Linked DNA regions of Homo sapiens. The protein of the gene in region 1 interacts with the protein of each later gene in a pairwise test. Each region holds a gene or a part of one and is shown on either strand. Other genes may lie near its edges.

Region 1 (6,913 bases):
GGGCACCTAGGGCTTTTCTGTCTGGAGTTGCTTGGGAGAAAAGCTATATCTAAAAGAGGGGCTAGGTGTCCAGACAGGAACCTTGTCTACTCAGTAGCAGATGGGGGAAAAGGAAGATTGGGGAAAACGACGAATAATCTTTTTTTTTTTTTTTTTGAGGGGGAGTCTCACTCTGTCGCCCAGGCTGGAGTGCAGTGGCGTGATCTTGGTTTACTGCAACCTCTACCTCCCAGGCTCAAGCGATCCTCCCAGCTCCGCTTCCCAAGCAGCTGCAACCACAGACATGTGCCATCACCCCCAGCTAATTTTTTGTATTTTTGGTACAGACGGGGTTTCACCATGTTGCCCAGGCTGGTCTTTAACTCCTGAACTCAAGCTATCCACCCACTTCCACCTCCCAAAATGCTAGGATTACAAGAATTATTTTTAATCAAGCACCTGCCTAGCATGAAGTCCACCCCACCCCACTCCCCAAAATTACTTTTTTCCTTAAGTTGCCACTTTAGAAATCTAAACATTTTTAAAAGTAGGAAGTTTAAATTGCAATAATATAAAAGACAAAGATTCATTGTGATCTTACATTAAAAAAAAAAATGAAATAAACTCACAGGGATATGTGGCAGTGTAATTGTGACTTCATCTCCTTTGCCAACTTGAAGCTCTCCTTCACAGGAAGTGTCTATAGATGCTGGTTTAAAATCATCTAAAGGGAAAGGAAAAAAAGCACTTACCCACCAGGTTACTTATAATAAGGGTTTCCTGGGCATCTCCATTTAAGAATTAAAATTATTACTCAGATGAATGGAAAATAAAAATAATTTAGAATTCTTAAAAAACTGTTTCGTTATGGAAAACTTCAGATACACAAAAGTAGAGAGAATCGTACAATGAGACCTGGTATACCATTATCCAGTTTCAATTATTACCAACTCAGGGACAATCTTGTTTCATCTACACCTCCACATACTTTTCCTCTGACCCCCTTTTGATTATTCTAGAGGGAAAAAAGAATTTACAGGCCATTTTATTAAACAAAGATATTCCCTTCTCCCAAGGGAGAGAGGAAAATTGTCTCATCATCCATAATAAGTTGCTTTTTTAGGGTTGTGAGGATCAAAAGTAACAGCATATGAAACAGATTCTGTGACTGTAAACTCTATATGAAATATGAAAGGCCACAGCATCATCAAAAGCTGATTTCATTCCGCATAGAAACTGTCAAAATTAGGATTTGCCATACTCAAGTTCCATAGCTGTTTTTTGTTTTTTTTTTTTTTTAATAGTGATGGGGTCTCACTATGCTGCCCAGGCTGGTCTCAAACTCCTGGGCTCAAGCTATCTGTCGACCTCGGCCTCCCAAAGTACTGGGATTATAGTGTCAGCCACCACTCTCAGCCAGTTCCACAGCTTTAACAAAGACACTTCGTAGATGTTCATAGCAGACAACTGAACTGTATCTCCGCAAGTTATCCTGCTCGTGTTTCTAAACTGCAGTTAGAATACAACATAATAGCCATCTTAATTCACATTCACACCTGCCTCAAACTGCAGGACAGGTGCACACATGAACTATATGATTTAAATTCCACATTGCCCTTCACCAAAAGAAAACATCAACTTAGTAAACTCTTCAGGAAATGATGTTCTTATCTTATTCCCATCTCTTCTCTCTGAAAGAGCTGGATCTGCTGTCAGTAGGAAGCATAGCAATGGCATGGCAAGTGACTACACAAAGATGGGATTTCATTATCTAAAACGCCCTCTTCACATGTGTTGAGTCACATCTATTAGGTCCTCTGACAAAAACAAGTCTTAACAACAGCGTTAGCACCACGGAAACCAGAAGTTCATGAATCACGGAGGGATGCTCTGTCAGCCAATTCCTAACTGCCAAACCTTCACCCAGGACATAGGGTGGAAGTGCACTCTCTCAACAGCGTCTATAATTATGTAGAAAAAGGTCCGGCATAATGACTATTTGGACATTCCTTACGCCTGCTCTCTTCTGCTTCCAAACGTAGACCAATCTTTAACCTATCCCAGGCTCACGAACTCTGATTTGACTCTTTACCCACAAGGAACTTGGTCTGGAGGAAAAGCCCGGGTGGTATAGGTGACCTCAAAAGACATCCAAGTCAAATGAAGCACAGAAAGGAGATGGAAGAAGACTCTGATGAGGCGCAGAGAGGATGCCAATTCTTTGGCTGTAGAGGGGACAAAGCACAGTATTTGGGAGTCCAGGACCAAGTCGGAGGAGAAAAGCAGGGAAGAGAATGGGTTCTAAGGCAGTGGATGAGGCTCATAACAAACAAGAAGCGTCTTTTAAATGTGGAGAACCCTGATGGGAGCATCGGAAAGGAGGGGAGGGGTTTCGAGGGAGAAGTGGACCCGGATAAGAGGGGGGAGGTTTGCCTTGGGGGAGGGAGGTTTGCCTTAGGGGCGAGGTTGGGGGCGGGGAGGGATGGAAATGGAAAGAGGCCAAAGACCTTTGGAACTAGTGTTTGAGACTGTGAGGTAGAAGAATAGTAGGGAGTGACGAAGATTTGGGAGAAATAATCTGGGTAAAAGAAGGGACAAATCGATGTCCCAAAGGATTTGGGGTTCGAGAGAAAGTAACTGACGCTGGCAGGGGGTTCCCTGGAATCTGAAGGGCCGAGGGAAGAAAGGAAGGAGTCAAGGTTGATATGTGGCGGCTGGAGCGGCCGAAGGGAACCGTGGGGAGCGCTGACTTACAACGAATAGTGTGGAAGGAGGCCCGCGGCCGCTTCTCGAAGCTCTCCCCGAGCCTCAGGCAATGTTCCTCGCGGTCCAGCAGCGGGTTTGCGGTCCCATTCATGGCCCCGCACCTGCCTCGCACCCAGATCGGCGCTCTCCCGGTGCAGCCGCGATCCGAGCTTCTGGCGCTGGCGTCTGGGAGGACTGTGCTTCCGGGCCACCGCTCTGGAAGACAAGGAGAGCCGAGCCGGCACCCACCCGGGTCCAGAAGCAAGTTCTCTCCTCTGCGTGGGGGTGAGAGAGGAATCTGAGGAGGCAAGGCCGTGGGACTTCCGGCGTCGGGTAGGAACTTCCGGGTTCCTAGCGGAAGTGGCGGGGGCGGTGCCATGGCAAAAGAACTCCCGGATAATCCGAATTCGTGGTCCTCAGAATTGGTTTAGGGTTGTTTCGCGGTTCTTCCCGTATTCTGCCTCCGAGGCCCAGTGGGGCTGGCTGTGGGGTGAGTGCGCCTGGCCCTAGCCCTGCAGGTGAATTTAGGAACTGATGACGGTGAGCCCTGAGCGTGGCTGACTAAATTAACGCGGGTCGGCTAGCCATCATGGACGCCCTCCTCAGGGTCTAGGGGCCCATGCAGCCTAGTCTATCCTGAGGGTCCTGAGATGGATCCTCGGGACCTCAGCCACGCGTCATTGGGTCTCTTTCTCCACTTTGCCCGGTGATGGCGGTGCGAGGGTCTCAGTCCCTGCAAAGTGACGCTCCCTCTGGTTCCTATGACAGCCTCTTGTGAGTGTGATCAGGAAATGAGCCCACCCAGGCTTAGCTTCATTTCCCCCGAAAAAACGGAGGTCCGACCCTTGGGAAACGATGACCTCACTTGTATCTGACAATTGACCACCCGCTTCCAGCTAAGGCCATTGTGGTTTTTAAGTCACCCCTTTCGCGGGCACCGAAAATTGAGGAATATTTTCTTCGCAAGGTTTCCCAGTCAGTTCTTGAGAGCGTCCTTTTTCGTAAACTAAATCGATTTATTGTAATAGTTGACTCATCTGGTTTGAATAAAAGTATGGTGCATGAGATAGTCTGGCCACTGAAATGAATGTAAGCCCACTGAAGGTAGGGACTGTGTGTTTGTCTTCTTTGTGACCTCTCATATAGCGGGAAGGATTTTTTTTTGTACAGTCTGCATCTCATAAACATTTGGTGAATTGAACCTGGCGTCTTGAACTGTAACCACTAACCAGAATCTAATTCTTTTCTCTGCGAAGCCCCCTGTGCTGTTTGAGGCGTGAAACTCACCTCAGGAAATGTATCTGATCCATTAGCGTGGATTCATATTATTTGGTGATGGAGAATCTTCAGCTGTGTTAAGTGTTACCGTCAGTTTCAGAGATGGCTTCTTTGCAAAGGAAAGGGCTGCAGGCAAGGATTCTCACCTCTGAAGAAGAGGAGAAACTGAAAAGAGACCAAACTTTGGTGTCTGATTTTAAACAGCAGAAATTGGAACAAGAGGCTCAGAAAAATTGGGATCTTTTTTACAAAAGAAATAGCACTAATTTCTTCAAAGACAGACACTGGACCACCAGAGAGTTTGAGGAGCTAAGATCATGTAGAGAGGTAAGCTAATATTACGCCTTATCTGAGCTGTTCTTCATTTAAAATGTGAAGAGGGTGCCATGGCTCATGCCTGTAATCCCAGTACTTGGGGAGGCCAAGGCAGGCGGATCACGAAGTCAAGAGATCGAGACCATCCTGGCCAACATGATGAAACCCCGTCTTTACTAAAAATACAAAAATTAGCTGGGTGTGGTGGTGCTCGCCTGTAGTCCCAGCTACTTGGAAGGCTGAGGCAGGAGAATCGCTTGAACCCGGGAGGCGGAGATAGCAGTGAGCCGAGATTGTGCCACTGCACTCCAGCCTGGTGACAGAACGAGACTCTGTCTCAAAAGAAAAAAAAATGTGAAGAGGTGTGCTGTATTGCATTCCTAGGGAGAGTGCGAAGTAGAGAATTTAAGAAGCCTATCAAAATGCTTTGCGTTTTAGGAGAGAAATATACTGTTTGGTCTTAACACCAAAGTTTTAGCAGTTTCTGGTTTGGTTAACATATAGGAGAGAGAACTTTAGTGGGTGTTTTCTATTTCTTTAAGCTGATCTGATAGTTGTAAACATTATATATTAAATTCAAGAGCCAGGTCTGGTGGCTATTGCCAGCTACTCCAGAGGCTGAGGCAGGCGGCTTGTGCCTGTGAATAGTCAACATGAATTAGCCAAGCCTAGGCAGCATAGTGAGACCCTATGTTCTGAATTTTAAAATTTTAAACATTAAAAATTTTAAAAACAAAAATATAAATTCATGCTAAGTGACTTCAGTGACAGATTCAGAATAATATAATAGTTAATGTTAGTAACTATTTACCATGGCTGTTTTCTACATGGCCTATCATTTGACCCTTATACCGGCTCTGTGAAGTGTAAGTATTAGTATTGTACTCATTTGTCCCCAAGGTAAAATTGAGGCACAGAGCTGTTTAAGTGATTTACCCAAGGATAGAATGCAGGGGAGGAGTTGAGATTTGGGTGCTGGCAGTTTAACTCCAGAGCCGAGTTAGCCATTGTGCTGTTTTTTTCCTCCACACCAAATTGTTAATGTTGGATGACAAATGAAGTACCAGTATTAGCTTTTGCTTATTAGTTCTCTTGTTGATCGTCTGCTCCATGGGGTCGGAGACCTCTCATATTCTGGACCTTTTAGTTTGGTTTATTTCTTCATTATGCAAATGTGATATACTATAACTTTGAGCTGTCTTTCCCCAGTTTGAAGATCAAAAGTTAACAATGCTTGAAGCTGGCTGTGGGGTTGGAAACTGTTTATTCCCACTTTTAGAAGAAGATCCGAATATCTTTGCCTATGCCTGTGATTTTTCTCCAAGAGCCATTGAATATGTTAAGGTTGGTGCACCATCTATGTATTCTGCTGTGTTTCTGTTTTCTTGCCGATCTTGTTTGATCTGCCTTTTTTATTCATTTGCCCAATTCTAGTCTTCCCTGGAGCTAACCAGCTATAGTCACCATACATGTAGTTGTCCTGCTTACATACATATACAGTGCATGTAGAAACACAGCTTTATTCAAGAAAAGCAGGAAAAAATACCATAATAACATCCATATAATTAACATCTTTTGCTTTACAATTTTTCTTTGCTGAACTATTTTAAAGTATATTACAAATGTCAAGACATTTCACTCCTAAATGTTTGCATACATCTCCCCTTAAAAAAGGCCTTTTTCTACACAACCACAATAAGTTTATCATATTTCACAAAAATAACTATAATCTGGCCTGCCATGTTGGTTCGCACTTGTAATCCCATCAGTTTGGGAGCCTGAGGCTGGTGGATAGCTTGCACCCAGTAGTTCAAGACCAGCCTGGGCAACATGGTGAAACCTTGTCTCTACCAAAAATACAAAAATTAGCTGGGCATGGTGGTGCTTACCTGTAATCCCAGCTAATTGGGAGGCTGAGGTGGGAAGATCACTTGAGTCAGGGAAGTGGAGGTTGCAGTGAGCCAAGATTGCAGCACTGCACTCCAGCCTAGGTGACAGAGCAAGACTGTCTTTAAATAAACAAATAAAATAACATAATCCCCCAATGTTATTAACATCCATTCCAAATTCAGATTTCCCCAAATAGTTCCCGGTGTCTTTTAGTTTTATTTTTTACTTTTTTTAGAGATGGGTTCTTTGTCACCCAGTTGAAATGCAGTGGCATGAACATGGCTCACCACAGCCTCAACCTCCTGGGCTTAAGCGATTCTTTCACCTCAGCCTCTCAAGTAGCAGAGACAATTTTTTAATTGTTTGTAGAGATGGGGTCTCACTATGTTGCCCAGGATGGTCTCAAACTCCTGGGCTCAGGTGATCAACCTGCCTCAGCCTCCCAAAATGCTGGGATTACAGGTATGAGCCACTGTACCTGGCTTCCAGGTGTCTTTTATAGCTGGTTTTTGTTTTTGTTTTTGTTTGAGACATGGTTTCACTCTCACCCAGGCTAGAGTGCAGTGGCCCAATCACAACTCACTGCAGCCTTGACCCCCCTGGCTCAAGCAGATCCTCCCACCTCAGTCTCCCAAGTAGCTGGGACTACAGGCATGTGCCACCGTGCCCAGCTAGTGTTTATTTGTTTATTTATTTATTTTAGAGA
Region 2 (6,626 bases), on another chromosome or scaffold:
CTCTTGACCTCAGGTGATCCCCCTGCCTCGGCCTCCCAAAGTGCTGGGACTACCGCATCCGGCCTTTGATCTTAACAGTATACATAGAATGTATTCTGTTGTTAACAGAGTTGGTTTCAATATTGTAAAGACGTACCATACAATTAATACAGAGTAATCAAATTGTGGAAATATAAAAAAGAAAAACAAGTATTAAACTGTAGTTCTGAGAAGTAGTTATGGCCTTAAGTGTTAGAATAATTTTCTCAGTAAGATGCTGCCTTTTTAATTTTTAAGTTCTCATATATAAAATTATTTAATTTTTTTAGGTACATCCATAAACCTACCAATCCTGATGAACCTCCAGTTGCTGAACAGCCCAAACCACTGTACCCATATCGAACAATTGGTTGTGTTTTCAACCATCAGATGTTCCTGGGAAATTGTCAACCCTCTGATGCAGTAGAAACCTGTGTATTTGATTTGAACGATGAATCCAAATGGAAACCCATGAGTGAGGAAGCAATTAAATCTGTGTGTGCTCCTGGAGCTACAACATCCCTTCCTCCCTTTCCACCTCTGTGTGCATCCACAATTGACGCGTCAGTAACAAGTAATGAAATTGAAATGCAGCTGAGGCTCCTGGTGTCAGAACACAGGAAGGTAATTCACACTGAAATAGTTGTAGTTTCATACTTCTTTTCATTTATGTATTTAACTGTTTTTTGGTGTGTGTGATAGTGCCAGTCACTATTCTAGCCCTGAACAAAACAACTACAGTCCCTACTATTATGAAGCTTATAATTTTGAAAGTCATGAGAGTTCAAGTTCTGAGACTCAAAAATCTTCAAATTAATTAATACTTATAGAATGAATTACTTCCTCCTAGAAATGAAGAATGGTGAACTTGTTCACATCCCTTAGAGTCAAGATTTTTGCTGAATACCACTATTTGGATTTTGTCTTTGTGAAATGCTTATTCACATATTTGCCCCTTAAAAAATCCTGGGTTAGGCTGGGCTTGATGGCTCATGCCTATAACCCCAGCACTTTGGGAGGCTGAGGTGGGTGGATCGCTTGAGCCCAGGAGTTCAAGACCAGCCTGGGGAATATGGTGAAACATCATCTCTATTATTTTTTAAAGAAAAAATATGTATACTGGGTTATACTTTTTTCATATTCATTTTTCTCCCCAGGTTGGTTTCTGTTTGTTTTCATGTTGTACTCAACTGGGTAGACGTCTGGCTTTAATTTGCATTTCCCTGATTACTTTTGAGATCAAACCTCTTTTTTTTTTTTTTTTTTTTTTTTTTGAGATGGAATCTCTCGCTCTGTCACCCAGGCTGGAGCGCAGTGGCGTGATCTTGGCACAGTGGCGTGATCTTGGTTCACTGCAACCTCTACCTCCCAGGTTTAAGCAATTCTCCTGCCTCAGCCTCCTGAATAACTGGGATTATAGACATGTGCTACCACGCTGCCAGTTTTTGTATTTTTTGTAGAGATAGGGTTTCACCATGTTGGCCAGGCTGATCTCGAAGTGATCTACCTGCCTCAGCCTCCCAAAGTGCTGGGATTACAGTTGTGAGCCACTGCGCCCAGCCAGATCAAGCCTCTTGTCAAATAGCATGTAGATTTCCTTTGTAAAGTGCTTTTAAGAAGACATAAAAAGTATTAGTCATAAAGGAAAAGATTAATGTATCTTAAAGACTTAAGCTCATCAAGAGAAGACATTAAGAGATTGAAGCTGTGGGGTGGGAAAAGTTGTTTGTAACACATATCACCAACAAAGGACTAGAATCCAAAATGCCTACAAAATATTTCTGATTCACCTTTTAGGGTTCCCTGTTCCACTCCTCACCTTGGGTGAGCCCTGTTTTCTGTGTTCTTTGGGGCTATCAAAGGCAAACTGATTTATCAAACATGTTCTCTGGGTTCCCAGTTACTCTTAGCTTTGGCCTCTAAATATTTCTTATTCACTTGTCAACTTATCAAAGCATTTAAACATACATTTTGGAAAACCTGGCATTTGTAATATGTTTTCAGCAAAAGTTGGTCAGGGGACCTCTGGTCCATTATATTGCTGGAAATGAATGCCCCTTATTACTTTTTCTTTCCTTCCATCACTTGTATTGGCTTTAGCTTTCTTTTCTTAGGTTCTGCTTACAAATAAAAGCAATATCTTATAAAAATTACTTTTGGCCAGGCACAGTGTCTCACGCCTGTAATCCCAGCAGTTTGGGAGGCTGAGATGGGTGGATTGCTTGAGCTCAGGAGTTCAAGACCAGCCTGGGCAACGTGGTGAGACCCTATCTCTACAAAAAGTACAAAAATTAGCCGGGTGTGGTGGTGCATGCCTGTAGTCCCAGATACTCGGAGGCTGAGGTGAAAGGAGCCGGGGAGGCAGAGGTTGCAGTGAGCCGAGATTGTGCCACTGCACTCCAGCCTGGGTGACAGAGTAAGACCCTGTCTCAAAAAAAAAAAAAAAAAAAAAAGGAATTACTGTTTACAGAAAAAGAAAACAAAGCTGTGATAGATGCCAGTGTTGATCACTATTTAAGTTAAGGTGCCTGTAAATCAGCAAAAGTTCACATTTTGCCGCAGGAAAAGCATTGTTAATCGTGGATCTTTGAGACCATTTGTGATGAGTTAAAACCTTGAATATAAAATGAGGAAATACCAAAGATCCATTATGATAATCAAAATATCTAGAATTTTGAGAATTTTTTGTATTTGTAATATTATTATTTTTAACTTCATGTGTCCAGATATCAATAGGTCTTTTGGTGTTATAAATGGAATCATGGGCTGGGCACGGTGGCTTATGCCTGTAATCCCAGCACTTTGGGAGGCCGAGGTGGGTGGATCACTTGAGGTCAGGAGTTTGAGACCAGCCTGGCCAACATGGTGAAAGCCCGTCTCTACTAAAAATACAAAAATTAGCCGGGCATGGTGGCAGGTGTCTGTAGTCCCAGCTACTCAGGAGTCTGAGGCAGGAGAATCGCTTGAACCTGGGAGGCAGAGGTTGCAGTGAGCCGAGATCGCGCCACTGCATTCCAGCCTGGGCAACAGAGTAAGACTCTGTCTCAAAAAATTTAAAAAAATAAAAAATAAATGGAATCATGTTGTTTTTAACATTCCATAGAAATATGTTTTAAGCTCCCTAAGGGCCTATAAAATGTCTTCATCTTTTTATCTCTTACAGTATATAAGTTTTATAGAGTACATGTTCAGTAAATATTTGTTTAATCACATAGAATTAATTTGTTGACTTTTCTCACCTCTGTAGTTGAGTTTATGGTAGGAAGAGTCAGTCTTTAGTAAACAGATTCATTCTTACTAAACTCTTTTTTATTTATTTTATTTATTTATTTTTTTTGAGACAGAGTCTCGCTCTGTTGCCCAGGCTGGAGTGCAGTGGCACGATCTCGGCTCACTGCAAGCTCTGCCTCCCGGATTCATACCATTCTCCTGCCTCAGCCTCCCAAGTAGCTGGGACTACATGCACCCGCCACCACGCCCAACTCATTTTTTGTATTTTTAGTAGATACAGGGTTTCACCTTGTTAGCCAGGATGGTCTCAATCTCCTGACCTCATGATCCGCCCACCTCAGCCTCCCAAACTGCTGGGATTACAGGCGTGAGCCACCGCACCCGGCCTAAACTCTTTAAAGTTAAGTAAAATATCTCAAAATATAAGAATTATACCTGTCCTCCATATTAGGACTATTTCATATAGTATTTTGTAGTAGATATTAGAGAAGTACAGGATTTGGAGACTTTGTGAACATTGTTTTGAATGTTTTTTGGTTGTTTCTCTAAAAAGTAAAATCTGATCACCTATAGTTCCTTTTATCTGATTTTTATTTCTATGTATCCCTATAATTATTATTATTAAAATATTATGATAGCTTTTAAAAATCTTTTCTTGGTATACATTAAAATAATCAACATTTTTATTTAGTTGGTTTTAAAAATATTAATGTATTTCACTTTTTCTTTTTCTCTTGATTGCTCATAGGATCTTGGCCTCACTACTGTTTGGGAAGACCAGCTCTCCTACCTTTTATCACCAGCTTTGGCTTCTTATGAATTTGAGCGTACAACAAGTATATCAGCAGGCAATGAAGAATTTCAAGATGCCATAAGAAGGGCTGTACCTGATGGTCACACATTTAAAGGGTTCCCAATACATTTTGTGTATAGAAATGCAAGACGTGCATTTGCCACATGTCTTCGGTAAGGTGTAATTTACGGAATCATTTTTTCAGTTTAGGAGTCTTACAGATCAGTCCGGCAGGGGTTTTTTTAATTTCCTTTTTTTTTTTTTTTTAACTCAAGGTCTTGCTCTGCTGCCCATGCTGGAGTACAGTGGCACAGTTATGGCTCACTGTAGCCTTGACCTCCTGGGCCCAAGTGACCCTTCCACCTCACCCTCCCAGGCAACTGGGACCACAGGCATGTGCCACCATACCTGGCTATTTTTTTTATCTTTATTTTGTAGAGATGGGGGTCTTCCTATGTTGCCCAGGCTGGTCTTGAACTCCTGGGCTCAAGCAGTCTTCCCACCTCAGCCTCCCAAATTGCTGGGATTACAGGTGTGAGCCGTTGCACCCAGCCTAATCTGGTAGTTATTTAGAAATGACATCCAAGTCATATGGGAGCTTTTACAATGACTGACCCTCCTTGCCACAGATTTTGATTCATTTGGTCTGAAATGTAGCCCTAGATAGTCTGGGATTATTTGCCCAGTGATTTTGGTGCAGTCTCAGGTATCTCTGATTTTGTTTGGACTATAAGGAAATAGTCTATAATTTGAATAGCTTGACCAAAATTACAGTGTCTTTGATAGCAGAGACAGAATTTGAAAAAATTATTTTATTTATTTATTTTTGAGATGGAGTCTCAGTCTGTCGCCCAGGCTGTAGTGCAGTGGCACATTCTTGGCTCACTGCAACCTCTGCCTCCTGGATTCAAGCGATTCTCCTGCCTCAGCCTCCCAAGTAGCTGGGATTACAGACGCCCGCCACCACACGCGGCTAATTTTTGTAATTTTTAGTAGAGGCGGGGTTTCACTATGTTGGCCAAGCTGGTCTTGAACTCCTGACCTCAGGTGATCCACCTGTCTCGGCCTCCCAAAGTGCTGGGATTACAGGCATGAGCCACCACGCCTAGCCTGAAAAAATTATTTTAAATACTGATTTACTTGCAAATAAGGAATTAAAGTGTATGGTCACTTCTTAATTGAATAATTTTTTTTTTCTTAAATAGATCTCCTTTCTGTGAAGAAATAATCTGTTGCCGTGGAGACCAAGTGCGACTGGCAGTTCGTGTCCGAGTATTTACTTACCCTGAATCTGCATGTGCTGTTTGGATCATGTTTGCTTGTAAATATCGCTCGGTATTATAGGGCCAATATTTATATAAGATTTATACCTGTGTTTAATTGGAATTTTACACATTGTACATTACTTAGCTATTTAGAGGTTTGTTATTTTAAAATCACAATCTGGCTTGAATGGCATACTTCAATTTTGTATATACTTGACTGGTAATGTTTAAAAAAAATCATGCATTCCTTTAAAAATTAAGGCTGAAAAACTTGTATAAATCTCCCTGGAATTTAGTATAAATTAAGTGTATATTCTATTTTAATAAATGCTACTTTGTTTACAGTTATCAGTAGTTTAAATATTAATATAAAATGCATTCAGTTTTCTTTACACAAACAGGTAATCAAAGAGATGTTTGTCTAAGGGTTTGAGCCCTAGACAAATCAGTATGATCATTACTTTTCACAGGTTAATGGAATTATTTTATACAGATTAGGAGAAATTAACCTCATGACAGATTTATTTATTGCATTGGTGAAAATAAATGTTAATGAATTACCACTTTTGTGGTTTATTCGTGGTCCTTGGGATATTTGAGACTGTCCAGAAATTTATGGTTGGACCTTGAAGCAAGAGTAGGAAAAAACTAATACCAGAAAAGCATAAATATTAATAACCTCATATGAAAGTACATGAATCATTTAGAAATATTTATCACTGTGATTTGTTGTAAAAATGAATTGGGTATTTTAGAAAAACTTTATTATACCTCTTTGTTATGATACTGATAAATTGTGATCTTGCAGTCGATCACTGATTTTCTGTGGTCAGAGGATTCATTATTAGCCTCTTCATGGATTCTATCTTCTGAAACCCTTTTTTCTTTCATTGTGATAAAAAAATCAGCATATATGTGACTAATCTAAATAAGAGATTGATTGTGTGAGACCACTGAAAACAAGCATATGTGAGTGATTCCATACTGATTTTTGTTTTAAAATTGAGCACGTTTTAAAAATTTTGTAAGGCTCGGCGTAGTGGTTTATGCCTGTAATCCCAGCACTTTGGGAGGCCGAGGTGGGTGGATCACTTGAGGTCAGGAGTTCGTGACCAGCCTGGGCAACATGGTGAAACCCTGTCTCTACTAAAAATACGAAAATTAGGCCGGGTGCGGTGGCTCACACCTGTAATCCCAGCTACTCAGGAGGCTGAGGCAGGAGAATCGCTTGAACCTGGGAGGCAGAGGTTGCAGTGAGGTGAGATCGCGCCACTGCACTCCAGCATGGGAGGCAGAGCGAGACTGCATCTCAGAAAAAA
Region 3 (6,911 bases), on another chromosome or scaffold:
GCACTCCAGCCTGGGTGACAGAGGTACACCTTGTCTCAAAAAAAAAAAAAAAAAAAATACACACACACACACACACACACACACACACACACACACACACACACACATAGATAGATATAGTATTATGGATCTATATTTCTCTAATATAGCCCATCTCAGTTACTGATTTCACATCCAACCAATTGGCAAAAAATTGAACAAACATTTTTCAATAGAGCAGGGGTTAGTACGCTATGGCCCACAACTCAAATCCAGCCAGAGGACTGTGTTAAAAAAAAAAAAAAAAAAAAAAACTAACTGGGAAACCATTAGGTTGAGACAGCTCCAGCACTTTGGGTTCCTATGTAAACAAACCAAAACCCAACTCAATGTAAACAGTAAAACTAAACTTGAGTTTAATCAATCAGAAACCACCAAACAACTTCTAACTAGAGACATTCCACTGTTACCAATCAAATATTTTCTGTTTCCATAAACACCTTATAAAAGTTTTCCCCTCACACCCTCTTGGTGGAGTCTTGAATAACTTGTGGTCTGGTGATACCCAATTTATGAAATTGCTGAATGCTCATATAAACTCTAAAATTTCCATGTGCCTAAAGTTATCTTTTAACAACTGTTTTTGTATAACCCATGAGCTAAGAATTGTTTTTACATATTTAAAGGGTTGGGAACAAAGTAAAGAGGAAAAAAACAGAAAAGAATGTGTAACAGAGACTGTACAGCCTGTACAACCTAAAATACAGGTAGTCCGAGCTTCACACATTACTTGGTTAGCTGAAACTCTACAAAGCGAGGGCTGCCTACACTTATTGTCTGGTCCCTTACAGAAATAGAGGATATCCAAATGCCAGTAAACACATGAATATGTGTTCAATACCATCAGTCATTAGGGAAATTATGGGAAAACCCCAATGTTATGTCACTATATTCCTACTAGAATGGCTAAAATGAAAAAGACAGTGTGAAATGTTGCAAGCATTTGGAGGAACCAGAATTCTCAAGCTGCCACTGAAGTATAAATTGACACAATATGAAAAACTTTTCAGTAGTGTATACCACAAACACACATCTGCCTATCCTGTAACACAGTAATTTTCTAGTAGGCATATACGCAATAAAAATGTACATATGGCCAGGCGCGATGGTTCACACCTGTAATCCCAGCACTCTGGGATGCTGAGGCAGGTGGATCAGCTGAGGTCAGGAGTTTGAGACCAGCCTGACCAACAAGGTGAAACCCCGTCTTTACTAAAAATACAAAACTTAGCCAGGCGTGGTGGTAGGCACCTGTAGTCCCAGCTACTCGGGAGGCTGAGACAGGAGAATTGCTTGATCCCGGGAGGCGGAGGTTGCAGTAAGCCGAGATCGCGCCACTGCACTCCAGCCTTGGCGGCAGAGCGAGACTCCATCTCAAAAAAAAGAAGAAAAAAAAAAGTATACATAATTTCATCAAAATATTTCTAAAAATCTTTATAGCAGCCCTATTGGTAATAGCCAAAAACTAGAAATACTATACATACAGCATGAGAATAACAAACTGCTACATAACTTGAATAAATCTCACAAATAAAATATTGAGCAAAAATCAGAAACTAAGGACTAAATACCATATTACTCCATTTATATAAAGTAAATAATAGGTGAAATTCATTGATAATGTTGGAAGTCCAGATAATGATTACCTTTGGAACCATGAAGTGGGGCTTCCGGGATGCAATAATGCTCTTTCCTGATCTAGATACTGGATACATGGGTATTTACACTTTGTGAAAATTCACCGAGCTGTACACTTACGATTCATGCACTTTTCTGTATGTCTTTATACTTTAAATATTAACGCAATAAAAATATCTCTATAAACTCTACTCCTTTGAAGGAAAATTGTATACATCTCCCATTCATTTTGCTGATTGCCATCATTACCTCCCATCAATGACATGTCTTGATTCCTATTCCTCACATTAAAAATTAAACTGTTTTAATTAATTTTATTGGCATACGATTGCATAGAATGATTATGTAATTGTCATTTTAGATGAACTCCATACCAGATCACAAGGAAAAACTTTGAAACGCCAATAATTTGTGATAGTATATTCAAGTTATCTGGGGAAGAAAAGAACACCTCCTTGAAATGTAGTTTTGTTTGGCCCTTTGTTTTGGCTTATTTCTATCTACTACCACTGTGATTTAACCTGCATAAAATGCTCAAAGGAGCTTTTCCAAACGCGTGTGTTTGTGGAAAGTTGTTCCTTTCTACCATCCTTGTCTAATAATGCGGCTGTCTTGTTCCCTCCATCCATAGAGCTTAAAATGCTTCCCAAACGTTGCACCAGGTCCAGGGACATTGTGAATCAAAAAAGAAAAAAAAAAATTCTAACAGTATCTTTTTACAGCATGGCTTAGCGCGCTTAAAGAAGCCCCTCATTCTTCGCCCACACTTCCACGTGTGAGAAATGAAATATAAAACGACTCTCTCATGGGCACAGAGTCGATCAGAGGTTGAGCGAGGACTGGAACCTTCTGACTAACCGCGACTTAAGGGGAAAAAAACAAAAAAAATACACCCTTGAATAAATGCTCAGCTGCTCAGGTCCAGTATTAGGAAACTGGAGACAATACCAAAACCATACCCAGAAAGAGCTGTCTGCCACCTGAGGACCCCACGACACTGACCTTCGAGAGAGCCCCATCACTCCCGGCCACGCGGGGTCAGCATTCACTAAGTACAGATTCCGCGGGGCCCCTTCTCCTTCTCCAAGGAAAAGTCTGCGGCCGAAAACTCCAGGGCTGATCTGTGCCCACCACTATCATTCTCCGTCGCCCAAACCTCCCTGCCCAACCGTTTACCTGAGATGCGCCTGGCATAGACCGGGGAGTCGACACTGCGCGCTTGCCGAGTTTCTCAGGCCGAGTGCGCAGCCACCGCGTCAGCCAATCGCCACTGGCTCAGAGCCTCCTGGCTCGAGACTCACCCACAGACGATCCGGCGGAGGAGCGGGGCGGCGCGTGGGGCCTACGGGGCGGCGGCGCGCCGCAGGGGAGAGCGCAAGCGGCGAGCACCGGGCATGCGCGTGCCGCGCTGCCGGGCCGCGAGGCGGGGCCTCCAGGAGAAAGAGAGAGCTTGGGAAGAAGGCCCGGGAGGAGTTTGGAGAGAAAGTAGTCGAACTTAGTCTGCTGCGGTGGTTGCCCTAACGGGATGCTTATGGTTGTCGAATCCAAGACGACGAGCGCAGAACGCTCTTTCTCTTCTGAAAGAGCAAAACGTTGTCTGGACAAAACCTAATAGGATTAGAAGAGGGAGAACGCGGAACTAAAAACGGTGTCTTGTGGCCTCATACTTGGCCTCGTCGAGTTTTCCCAAGACCTGTCGAAATTGTGCTTTCCTTCTTTGTGTGTGGTTTGGGATGAGAGGTGGGAGGGACGTGTTTCGAAGCGGCGGTCAAGTGAAAATGGCACCAGATCGGGCTCCGGTTGAGTGAGCAAAAGTACTATCTAGATCCTGGCCAAAGAACGTTTCACACTAAAACCTTGGAGCTGGTGACTTTTTTTTTTTTTTTTTTTTTTGACTGAAGTGCTGGATGAGATTACGATATGTGAATCCTCTAAGAAAAAATGTTAAACCTTACAGAATTTAAAAATGTCCAAAGTTTTCAATTGGCCTACCTCCGTGAACTAAGAATGGTATAATTAACTGCTAGTAATTTAAATTTGGGTTTTTTGTTCCATAGTTCAGAATTGGTTTTATAAATGTCACTTTAACTCCTGTTACTCATGATTCCTTCAGACACCAAATACTTAGTGACCACATACCATGTGCCAGGTACTCTTCTGGGTGCTGAGTAATAAGCAATAATATTTTTTAATACACCCCAGAGAATAGGCATAATATGAGGTGCTGACGGGTTCCTAAATTTGTGGTTAAAGTTAATGAAAGGAACTTATCCTTTAGTAAGTGTACAAAAGAGAGTTTAAAAAACTGAAAAAGGCCGGGCGCGGTGGCTTACGCCTGTAGTCCCAACACTTTGGAAGGCTGAGGCAGTGGGATCGCTTGAGCCCAGGAGTTCGAGACCAGCCTGGACAACATGGCGAGACCTTGACTTTATTAAAAATCAAAAAAATTAGCTGGGCATGATGGTGCATACCCGTAGTCCCAGCTACTAGGGAGGATGAGGTGGGAGAATCGCTTGAGCCCCAGAGGTGGAGACTGAAATAAGCTACGATGGCTGGCGCCACTGCACCCCAGCCTGGGGGACAGAGCATGACGCTGTGAAAACTAACAAAATGGAAAAGTTGGACGTAGATTAACTTGGAACAACAGAGGTTATAATATTCACCAAATTTTCGTTATGTATGCTGTAATGAACAGTGTTCTCAAGAAGTTTGTTACAGATTCAGCTTTGAAATGCTTTTTTCTTTTTTGCTTTACTTCAGTCAGGATTTGAATCATATTTATGAACATAAAGTACCATAAAAATCTATGAGACAAAAACAAAGAGTGTACAGTTTATCAGAGCAAATACTCCAATCAGGAAGTATATAGCTTGTGCAAAGGCTTAGGGCCAAATCAAATTATGTGTAAAACAAAGGAAAAAGTTGATTTTCCTGGCTAGGAAATAATAAATAAAACAGGATAGTGACTACCACAATGAGAACATTCAAACCATGTAATGAATTAGTAGAATAAATTTAGAGAAAAATTATAATATTTTTCATTGAGTAAAGTTCATTTCCTCCTTTTTTTAAAGCCCATTATCTGGGTGCTTACAGTCTCTGGCATAAAGAGAAACCTCATATTTTCTTTCCTTTTAGTAAGCTGATTTTCTCTCTCTCTCTCTCTGTTTTATGCAGTGAGTTCAAACATTAGGACTAATTCTCCCTATTCTTTTTCCTTTTTCCCTAACATACCTGAAGTAACTCATTAATGTTCTTTCCCTAAACTTTTGATACCACAACAGGTAAGTTTTCCCCTACTCCCCTCCACCACCACCATAACCAACATATCCATTTCTTCATTTTCTATTGTTCTAACAGTTGCCTGTCTATAAGAAATGAAAGAGATAAATTAGAGCTTTTTTCTTTTCTCAAAATGATTATCAAAGATATTGTCTATGTCCTCATACCTCATACAAGCTGGACTTTTACAGAAATATGGATGAAGATGAGAAGAAGAAAATGAACCACTCTTTCGTTACAGGGAGAAAAAGAATGTCATATTATTAATATTATCAAGTCTGTTAATGTCAGATCATTAATATTCTCAAGTCTATAAATATTAGGCTTCTGCAGTGTGTCACACACTGATCAGTTCTGCAAATAAAATAATGAATAACAATTAGGCACACAAGTAGCTGAGAATACCATATGTATTAATCAGGGTTCTCCAGAGAAACAGAACAAACAGGATATGTGTGTATACACAGAGACTACATAGAGAGAGGGACAGTGATTTATTGTAAGGAAATGGCTCATGCAGTTGTGGACTTTTAGTGAGTCCAAAATCTGAGGGAAGAGGCGGGCAAGCCTCAGAAAAGAATTGTAGTTGGACATACATGGAATGTAATCTGTTGTATTCAAAGTCTGGTGATTTAAATGGTAATCTCATCAAAAAAACACCTTCACAGAAGCATCCAGGATAACGTTTCACCAAATATCTGTGCACCATGGCCCAGCCAAGTTGACAAAATTAACCATCACACTGTGTAAACTGAGAAATGGCTTTGGGAGAGGGGAGTTCAGGGGATGAGGAAGACAGAGTCAGGAAAATCTGAAGGAGATAATGCCTCCTGTAGTATGAATAAGACTTAGCAAGGTGAAGAGGTGAGGGTGGAGGTGCAGAGAAAACAGAATTCCTTATAAAGGAATCAATATGGGAGTGAGATACTGTAAGGAGCTATAAGCAATTTAATATCACAGTATAAAATTTAACATGGAAAGTGGTGGGAAATGAAGTTGGAGAGATTATGAAAGGTCTTTTTTAAAAATAGAGTTGGGGACTCACTATGTTGCTGGGGCTGGTATCAAAGTCCTGGCCTCAAGCAGTCCTCCCACTTTGGCCTCCCAAAGTGCTCGGATTACATGCATGAGTCACCATGCCAGGCAATATAAATGATCTCCTAATTAAGTACCTTGGACTTGATTCTATAGTCAATGAATTTTGAAAGTTAAAACAGGAGTGATGAGATTAGATTTACACTTTCATTCATCAATTTAGAAATACGTTTCAGAATCAAAATTCTCAAGTTTGCAAGACTAGTTAATCTAATTGAAAAACGATAAAAAGGCTGGGCTCTGTGGCTCATGCCTGTAACCCCAGCACTTTGGGAGGCTGAGGTGGGTGGATCACTTGAGGCTAGGAGTTGGAGACCACCCTATCCAACATGGTGGGACCTCCCCCCACCGTCTCTACTAAAAATACAAAAAATAGCCAGGCATGGTGGCACATGTCTGTAATCCCAGCTACTCAGGAAGCTGAAGCATGAGAATCACTTGAACCAGGAGGTGGAGGTTGCAGTGAGCTGAGATTGTACCACTGCACTCTAGCCTGGGTGACAGAGTTAGACCCTGTCTCAAAAAATAAATAAATAAATAAATAAATAATAAAATGTATGTGGTAAAGCACGATAGATGGAAAAGGGTAGCTTGAAGAAGTAGGAAATAGTTTGCAAAATCTGGTAAATAACTAGTTGAGAAAGAGGAAAGTGTTGATGGTATTAAAGAAATTGGTGAATAAGTAAGTTCAGTTTTGATAGAATGAGTTTGAATTGCTAGGGAAGCATCTTAGAGTAGCTTTCCAGCAGTCATATGCAAGGAAGCATTCTAGACTGGGCTAGACATGAGATTAATGAACATAGATATGATGGATAAAGCTATTTTTTAAATTTTCAAGTCAGTCTCATAGCACTTTG
Region 4 (7,550 bases), on another chromosome or scaffold:
TGGCGACAGAGCAAGACTCCGTCTCAAAAAAATAAAATAAAATAAAAAAGAAGTTTCACTCCAAAGCCTGCATTTCTGGCCTTTCTTGAAAAATAGGATGGTCTGGCCACCCAGGGGCTGTTACGCCTCGAACATCCGGTGTGTGCCTCTGATATGGTAGGGTCCCTCGTTGGACAGCAGGAAGCCCAGGCCCAGCGGATGGAGACCCCAAAGCTCAGAGAGGGCTTCCGGCTTAGCAGAGGTCACACAGCACTGTGACCGCCATCTGATCCCTTCCCTGTGGAATCAGGTCAGCCCCGGGGCTCACCAGGCGGTATCCAACCCTTCATATCGAGGAACCCGCACAAAAGCTTCTGGGGCCTGCATGGAAAGCTGACTCCAGCACCTTCGACTGTCAGTGTCTCAGTTTGCCCAGCTTGAGAATGGGTACGACAGTCGGACGACAGGAAGGATGAAGCACGAGGAGGCACGAACGGTCTTGAGCACACAGGGAGTACCCAAAAAGGTGGGATATTTGCAGCAGCAACAACAAAATCGAGATTCCCCTTTCTACTTGGAGGAAATCCAGGATCCTTCCAGGAACACTTCTGGGGTGGGCACGCTTCAGTTTAGAGAGGGCCCCAAGGCCAAACGGGGGTTTGAGCATAGCCTGACTTTCTCCAGATTCCCAGGCCCGGCGTGCCCCTCCAGAGCAGGGCAGGCGAGAACCTATATCCTTAAACCAGGAGAGAGACCTGGTGCAAACCTCAGCCTTGCCACTTCCTCAATGCTATGGACACCCCCGAGGAAATAACATCATAACATCTCTGGGCTTAAGTTTCTTTTTTTCTTTCTTTTTTTTTTTTTTTTTTTTTTTTGAGACAGAGTCTCCCTGTTACCCAGGCTGGAGAGCAGTGGCTCCATCTCTGCTCACTGCAACCTCCGCCTCACGGGTTCAAGCAAGTTTCCTGCCTCAGCCACCCGAGTAGCTGGGATTACAGGCGCCCGCCACCACACCCAGCTAACTATGTATTTTTGGTAGAGACGGGGTTTCACCATGTTGGCCAGGCTGGTCTCGAACTCCTGACCTCAAGTGATCCACCTTCCTCGGCCTCCCAAAGTGCTGGGATTACAGGCATGAGCCACCACGCCTGGCCTGGGCTTAAGTTTCTTTAAGTGTAAGAGGACTAAATAGTTCCTTCCCCTTAGATACCGCAGCGTGGCAAGCTCTTCAGAAACGCCAGATTTCTGAAAGAAGCAGCACCTTGGAGAATCTGACGGGTGCTGGGAACCCTTTCTCCAAAACTGGGCAAAGAGAGAGATGACCAGGCTGCAGAATGTTTCTGTTTTGGGGGTTGAGGGATGGCGAGTCCGTGCCGTAACTCCAATTGTTGGAAGGTCTTTTATCCAATGGGGGACTTGGGGGTATTGGGGAGGAGGGAGGGGCTCTGAAGCCACACAGCTGAATCTTTGGGCAAATTATTTAACTATTTTTGTGCCTCGGTTTTCTCCTCTACAAAATGGGGCTGTTTAAAATAAATGAATTCAGTATTTGTCAAGTGATTAGGTCAGAGTCTAGCATATATTATTTTCCCAATCTCCAGGCCTCAGCCTTGCCATCTGCGCAGAAGAAATGGGGGGACTCACATTCTCGGGACGCAGGGACCCCCAGTCCCCCAGCTCACCTGTGGTACTGAGCTTGCAGTAGCTGAAATTCGTCTTTGATGCGGTCGCAGGAGTCCGAGGTGGTGAATTTGAGTTGCTGGGGTAGGTGCGAGGAGCCCTGTAGGGATGGGGCGGCCCGGGTCAGGCCCAGGCGTGGGCTGGACCCCCCTCAAGGGCCGGCTAGGAGGGAGCGGCCGCGCAGCTGCGGCGCCCCCCCTCCTGCCCCACTTCCTGGGCCCGTGTTTACGGCCCCTGGCGCGACCCCACCCGCGCTTCCTGCCCCCCGCCTCTCCCGGGGGAAGCCGAGCGGGTGGGTGCGCCCGGAGCCGCCCCGTCCCCCGCCACCCCCAGGCAGTGGGGGTGCGTTTTAAGGCCCGCCCTAGATGGGGGGCAGGGTGCGCCCTCTACCGCCCTCCAAAGCGCCGGGAGGGAGTGCACATCCGAGGGGGGTAGAAACGCGCCCTAGGGAGCCCCCTCCCCAAGTTGGGGGGCAGCGATTCCTCCCTGCAAAGTCCTCTTGGGGGAGGGGTCTCTCTCTCGGTGCTCGAAATCTTCCGGGGGGGCCCAACCCCAGATTCCCAGCGCCCTTCCTCGGGGACACGCTCTTCCGGGAGGGGTGCGCCTCGGATCACCCCCCCCACCACAGGCCCCCAAAGGATCCCCGGGCTAGAGGTGCCTCGCGGGGCTTCCGGAGCGCCCCAGGCCCGAGGCCAAGGCCGTCCGAGGCCCTGACTGTCCCGGCGGGTTGGGGGGGGGGGGCGCCAAGCCGGGAGCTGCGGCGGGGGGGCTCGGGGCCCGGAAGCTGGGGTGGATCGGGAACTGGAGGGGGGGTGTCCGGGGGCCGGCGGCAGGAGGGGAGGGGGGTCGCGCCGGGCTGGGAGCTGGAGAGGGAAGACAGGGCCGGGGAGTTGGGGGGGGCGCCGGGCCGGAGGCACCGGGCCTGGGGGTTGGGGGGCGCGGGGCCGGGAGCCGGGGGTCGGGGGCGTAGGGCCCGGATCCGGGGTGGGGGCGCCGGCCGGACGGGCCCCGCTTACCGAATGCCTGCTTTGTGGAAACATCATGTCAATCGCGGCGGGGGGCGCGGGCTGCGCCCCGGCTGTGCGCCCCGGCTCGGGCTGCTGGGGGCGCCGGGCGGCCGCGCCTTTGTCCCGGCGCCGATCGGCAGCTCCCGGGGCCGCCGCCGCCTCCCGCGCCCGGCCTCGCCCGCTTCCTGCGCCCCCTCCCCGCGCGCCCGGCCCCGGCGCGCCCCGGGCCCCGCTTCCTGCGCGCCCGGCGCCCCTCCCCGCCCCTCCCCGCCGCCCGCCTCCCCGCTCCCCGGCCCCACCGCTATTGTCTAATGGCGGCGACGCCGGCAGTGGCCGCGGCTCGGCTGCTGCGGAGGCTTCGGCTCCACCTGCCGCCGCCCGTGCCCCGTGCGCGCCGCCGAGGGGGGGGACGCGCGCGCCCGGGGAGGCCTGCGGATCCCCACGCCGGCCCGCCTCCCCGTGGCCCGCCCGCCGCGGTGACCTTGGGCCCGGCCCGCCCCCGCCCCGGGCAGCGGCCCCCGCCACCCTCTCCTACCCGGCAGCCGGCCGGGCCTCGGTTTCCCCATCTGTCAAAGAAAAGGGACCCGGCTGCCCGCGTCGAAGCCGCCGGCCCTGCTGTGGCACGACCTGGACGCGTGCCACGGACGTGCTCTGTGACCTTGGCTCTGGCTGGGCGGTGGTTCTTGCTGAGCCTTAGTTTCCTTTTCTGCAGAAAGGCAGCGGTAATGCCGCCTTCCTGAGGGAAGCCATTCTTGTGACACATTTATAGAACGCCTACTGTGTGCCAGGCCCCGCTGCTCCAGGGCCCTGGGGTGGGGCGGGGCGGGGGTGGGTCCCTGCCCTGGTGGTGGTGCCTGGAGACAGACAGAGACAAATTCACAAGCTGAATTCCTGGCAGGTCAGATGGTGGGGACAGTTCTGCAGAAAAACCAGCCGGGAGAATGGCAGGGTAGGAAGGTGCAAAGTTAAAGAGGTGGGAGGGAGGATCAGAGACGGCTTCCTCCACCCCTAAAGCGACCTGAAGAAGGAGGGAGAACAGGGGGATGGGGTACAGAGGTAGTCAGAGGCAGGACCAACAGGTGCAAAGGCCCTGGGGCAGGACTGTGCCTGGCAGCAGAGTGCCCGGGGGGAGGTCAGGAAGGCCGGAGGGAGGCAGGGCCGGGGGCTTCGTGCTTTTGTCCAGGGCCCCCCCACCCCACAGCAGGGCTTGTGCTTGGGTTAATATTTACTGCTGCATTTTGAGATTTCTAATCATTTTTGAACAAGGGGCCTTTGAGTTTTCTTTTGCACTGGGCCCTGCTAACTCTGTAGCTGGTGAAGCAGGCCAGTCCAGCAAGGACTTGTGGGTCTTGGGGAGGACTTGGGATTTTGCTCTGAGTGAGGTAGGAGCCCTGGAAGGCTGTGGGAGGAGGAGGGACGGGACCTGGTGGTTGGTTGGTTTGTTTTTTGAGATGGAGTTTCGCTCTTGTTGCCCAGGCTGGAGTACAATGGCACAATCTCAGCTCACCGCATCCTGGGTTCAAGTGATTCCTGCCTCAGCCTCCCGAGTAGCTGGATTACAGGCACGTGCCACCACGCCCCGCTAATTTTGGAGTTTTAGTAGAGACGGGGTTTCTCCATGTTGGTCAGGCTGGTCTTGAACTCCCGACCTCAGATGATCTGCCCGCCTCGGCCTCCCAAAGTGCTGGGATTACAGGCGTGAGCCACCGTGATCAGCTGTTTGTTTGTTTTTGAGATGGAGTCTCACTCTGTTGCCCAGGCTGGAGTGCAGTGATGTGATGTTGGCTGACTGCAGCCTCTGCCACCCGGATTCAAGTGATTCTCCTGCCTCTGCCTCCTGAGTAGCTGGGATTACAGGTGCGCATCACCACGCCTGGCTAATTTTTGTATATTTAGTAGAGACAGGTTTCACCATATTGGCCAGACTGGTCTTGAAATCCTGACATCAGGTGATCCTCCCGCCTCCACCTCCCAGAGTGCAGGGATTACAGGTGTGAGCCACTGCGCCTGGCCCTGGACTTGGGCTTTTGCTCTGAGTGAGGTGGGAATCCTGGAGAGCCGTGGGAAGAGGAGGGATGGGACCTGGTGGCGGTTATTAAAGGATCCCTCTCTCTGCCACGCAGAGAACAGGTCCCAAAGAGGCTACTGAAATAAGGCTATGACATTAAGGTCCCCCTTTGGCAGGTGCGAAACACAGTCTCTTCATCATCGTCATCCACTAGGCAGCCTGCTCCCTTGAATGAATGCAATTGATTTGGGCCTTGGGTGTTCCCATCTGTAAAATAGACTTGGAACCCCAGGCTCCTTACCTTGGCAGGTAAGGGTGATAGCCTTCAGTGATCAAGATTAATAATCTTTAAAGCAGTGTTTTAATATTTTTATTAAAAAAAAATTTTTTTTTTGAGGTGGAGTCTCACTGTGTGGCCCAGGCTGGAGTGCAGTGGTGCCATCTCGGCTCACTGCAAGCTCCACCTCCCGGGTTTATGCCATTCTCCTGCCTCAGCCTCCCGAGTAGCTGGGGCTACAGGCGCCCACCACCACGCCCGGCTAATTTTTTGTATTTTTAGTAGAGACGGAGTTTCACTGTGTTAGCCAGGATGGTCTCGATCTCCTGACCTCGTGATCTGCCTGCCTCGGCCTCCCAAAGTCCTGGGATTACAGGCGCGAGCCACCACACCCGGCCTAAAAAAATTTTTTCAGACACAGTCCTCTGTTGCATAGGCTAGAGTGCAGTGGTGCAATCATAGCTCACTGCAGCCTCCCACTCCTGGGCTCAAGTGATCCTCCGACCTCAGCATCCTGAGTAGCTGGGACTACAGGAGTGCACCACCATGCCCAGCTAATTTTAACATTTTTTGTAAGCCGGGAGCAGTGGCTCATGCCTGTAGTCCCAGCACTTTGGGAAGCCGAGGCCAGTGGATCACAAGCTCAGGAGTTCGAGACCAGCCTGGCCAACATGGTGAAACCTCGTCACTACTACAAATACAAAAATTACCGGGGTGTTTTGGCGGGCGCCTCTAATTCCAGCTACTTGGAGGCTGAGGCAGGAGAATCGCTGGAAGCTGGGAGGTGGTGGTTGCAGTGAGCCAAGATCGCGCCACTGTACTCCAGCCTGGGTGACAGAGTGAGACTCTGTCTCAAAAAAAAAAAAAAAAAAAAGATGAGGCTAGAAAGGATTAGGATTTTGGATTTTTAAGATTACTACTACTTGGTGGCCGGGTGTGGTGGCTCACACCTGTAATCTCAGCGCTTTGGGAGGCCGAGGCAGGCGGATCACCTGAGGTGAGGAGCTTGAGACCAGCCTGACCAACATGGAGAAACTCCGTCTCTACTAAAAATACAAAATTAGCCTGGCATGGTGGCTCACGCCTGTAATCCTAGCCACTTGGGAGGCTGAGGCAGGAGAATTGCTTGAACCTGGGAGGTGGAGGTTGCGGTGAGCCAAGATTGTGCCACTGCACTCCAGCCTGGGCGACAAGAGCGAAACTCTGTCTCAAAAAAAAAAGAAACAAAGAAACAGAGATTAATACTACTTAGTAACAGCCAAGCCTTCAACCAACCGCAACACCCTTGTTTTTCCTGCAGGGCCCTGAGAGACTGCGTTCCTAGACTGCCCCTGAAGCCAGTCCTGCCGCTAGCACCCCTGCCACCCCACCCCCACTGCCGTGGGGACCAGACACCCCCTCTCCTGGGAGGCCACCTGCCAGTGTTTATTTAGGCAGGCGCCTTCCGGTATCAGTGTGCCCGCCCAGTGACCAAACAGCCCCATTTTCGAAGCCCCCACACTGTCAGGGGAAGCAGAACTGGACACAGATACCTTGAGCACGGTGAGGTGAGGGCTGGGCCACCCACAGGGACCTAGGCCTGTGAAGGAGAGAGTCATTGTGAAATCATCGTTTTTAGAAAATAGGTTTTTTTTCTGCATAGAAGGCAGCCCAGAATGGTGGCCCACACTATAAATAATCAACCAAGCCACACAGGTCTGTATGTTTTTGCTCCGCACCAGGGGCTGCCTTAAGCACTTTAACCTTTAGGTACAGTTGTCACACCCATTTTAGAGATGGGGGGAAAACAGGCCGGCAGGGTGGCTCAGGCCTGTCATCCCAGCACTTTAGGAGGCCGAGGCAAGCAGATCACTTGAGGATCAGGAGTTTGATACTAGCCTGGCCAACATGGCGAAACCCCGTCTCTACTAAAAATACAAAAATTAAGGCGTGGTGGTGGGCGCCTGTAATCCCAGCTACTCTGGAGGCTGAGGCAGGAGAAGCGCTTGAACCCGGAAGGCGGAGGTTTCAGTGAGCCGAGATCGTGCCACTGCACTCCAGCCTGGGCGACAGAATGAGACTCTGTCTCCAAAAATAAAAAATAAAAAAAAAGAAAACGAAAAAAAATGGGGAAAGTGAGTCACAGAGAAGTGAAGTGACTTGGCCAAGTGGGTAGGGGGCAGAACCACGATGTTATCCCAGGCCTTTGATCTTGACCTTGGGCCTTTGAGCACTCTGCAGTGTGGCTTCTGGCCGGGACACGATGGCAGCACGTGCTGCTGGGCTGAGGAGCTGGGATTTTACCTGGAGGGCACTAGGGAGCCACAGGAGGTTTTAGAGCAAGATTCTTCAGTTAGCGCCATCGCATTCCACCCTGGGCGACAGAGGGAGACTCCATCTCAAAAAATAAAAGTAGATTGCATCAAAATAGTGTTTATCCTGATGACTTAGGTATTTGGCATCCCCTTAGCTTTTTTATTTTTTTTTGAGACAGGGTTCTTACTCTGTCACCCACGCTGGAGCGCAGTGGTGTGACTTCGGCTCACTGAAGCCTCGACCTCCCAGGCTCAAGCAATCTGCCCACCTCAGCTTCTCGAGTATCCGGGATGAAAAGCGT

The links.
Region 2: the proteins of EAF1 (region 1) and CEP76 interact in binary tests that used the Homo sapiens proteins (3 or more experiments, as listed by UniProt).
Region 3: the proteins of EAF1 (region 1) and MIPOL1 interact in binary tests that used the Homo sapiens proteins (3 or more experiments, as listed by UniProt).
Region 4: the proteins of EAF1 (region 1) and TLE5 interact in binary tests that used the Homo sapiens proteins (3 or more experiments, as listed by UniProt).

What each region holds. Positions count from the first base shown.
Region 1 is NC_000003.12:15,423,703-15,430,615, reverse strand, and holds the start of EAF1 (ELL-associated factor 1), read right to left. Parts: upstream 3,019-6,913; 5' UTR 2,837-3,018; coding exon 2,734-2,836; intron 2,295-2,733; exon of another isoform or gene 1,989-2,294; intron 704-1,988; coding exon 609-703; intron 1-608. Other genes in the region: tRNA N(3)-cytidine methyltransferase METTL6, read left to right, coding at 4,105-4,329, 5,527-5,661. UniProt on the Homo sapiens protein: Acts as a transcriptional transactivator of ELL and ELL2 elongation activities.
Region 2 is NC_000018.10:12,672,125-12,678,750, reverse strand, and holds the end of CEP76 (centrosomal protein of 76 kDa), read left to right. Parts: intron 1-308; coding exon 309-642; intron 643-3,997; coding exon 3,998-4,215; intron 4,216-5,247; coding exon 5,248-5,386; 3' UTR 5,387-6,126; downstream 6,127-6,626. UniProt on the Homo sapiens protein: Centrosomal protein involved in regulation of centriole duplication. Required to limit centriole duplication to once per cell cycle by preventing centriole reduplication.
Region 3 is NC_000014.9:37,194,047-37,200,957, reverse strand, and holds the start of MIPOL1 (mirror-image polydactyly gene 1 protein), read right to left. Parts: upstream 3,022-6,911; 5' UTR 2,854-3,021; intron 1-2,853.
Region 4 is NC_000019.10:3,059,496-3,067,045, forward strand, and holds the start of TLE5 (TLE family member 5), read right to left. Parts: upstream 3,001-7,550; 5' UTR 2,706-3,000; coding exon 2,679-2,705; intron 1,763-2,678; coding exon 1,665-1,762; intron 1-1,664. UniProt on the Homo sapiens protein: Transcriptional corepressor. Acts as a dominant repressor towards other family members. Inhibits NF-kappa-B-regulated gene expression. May be required for the initiation and maintenance of the differentiated state.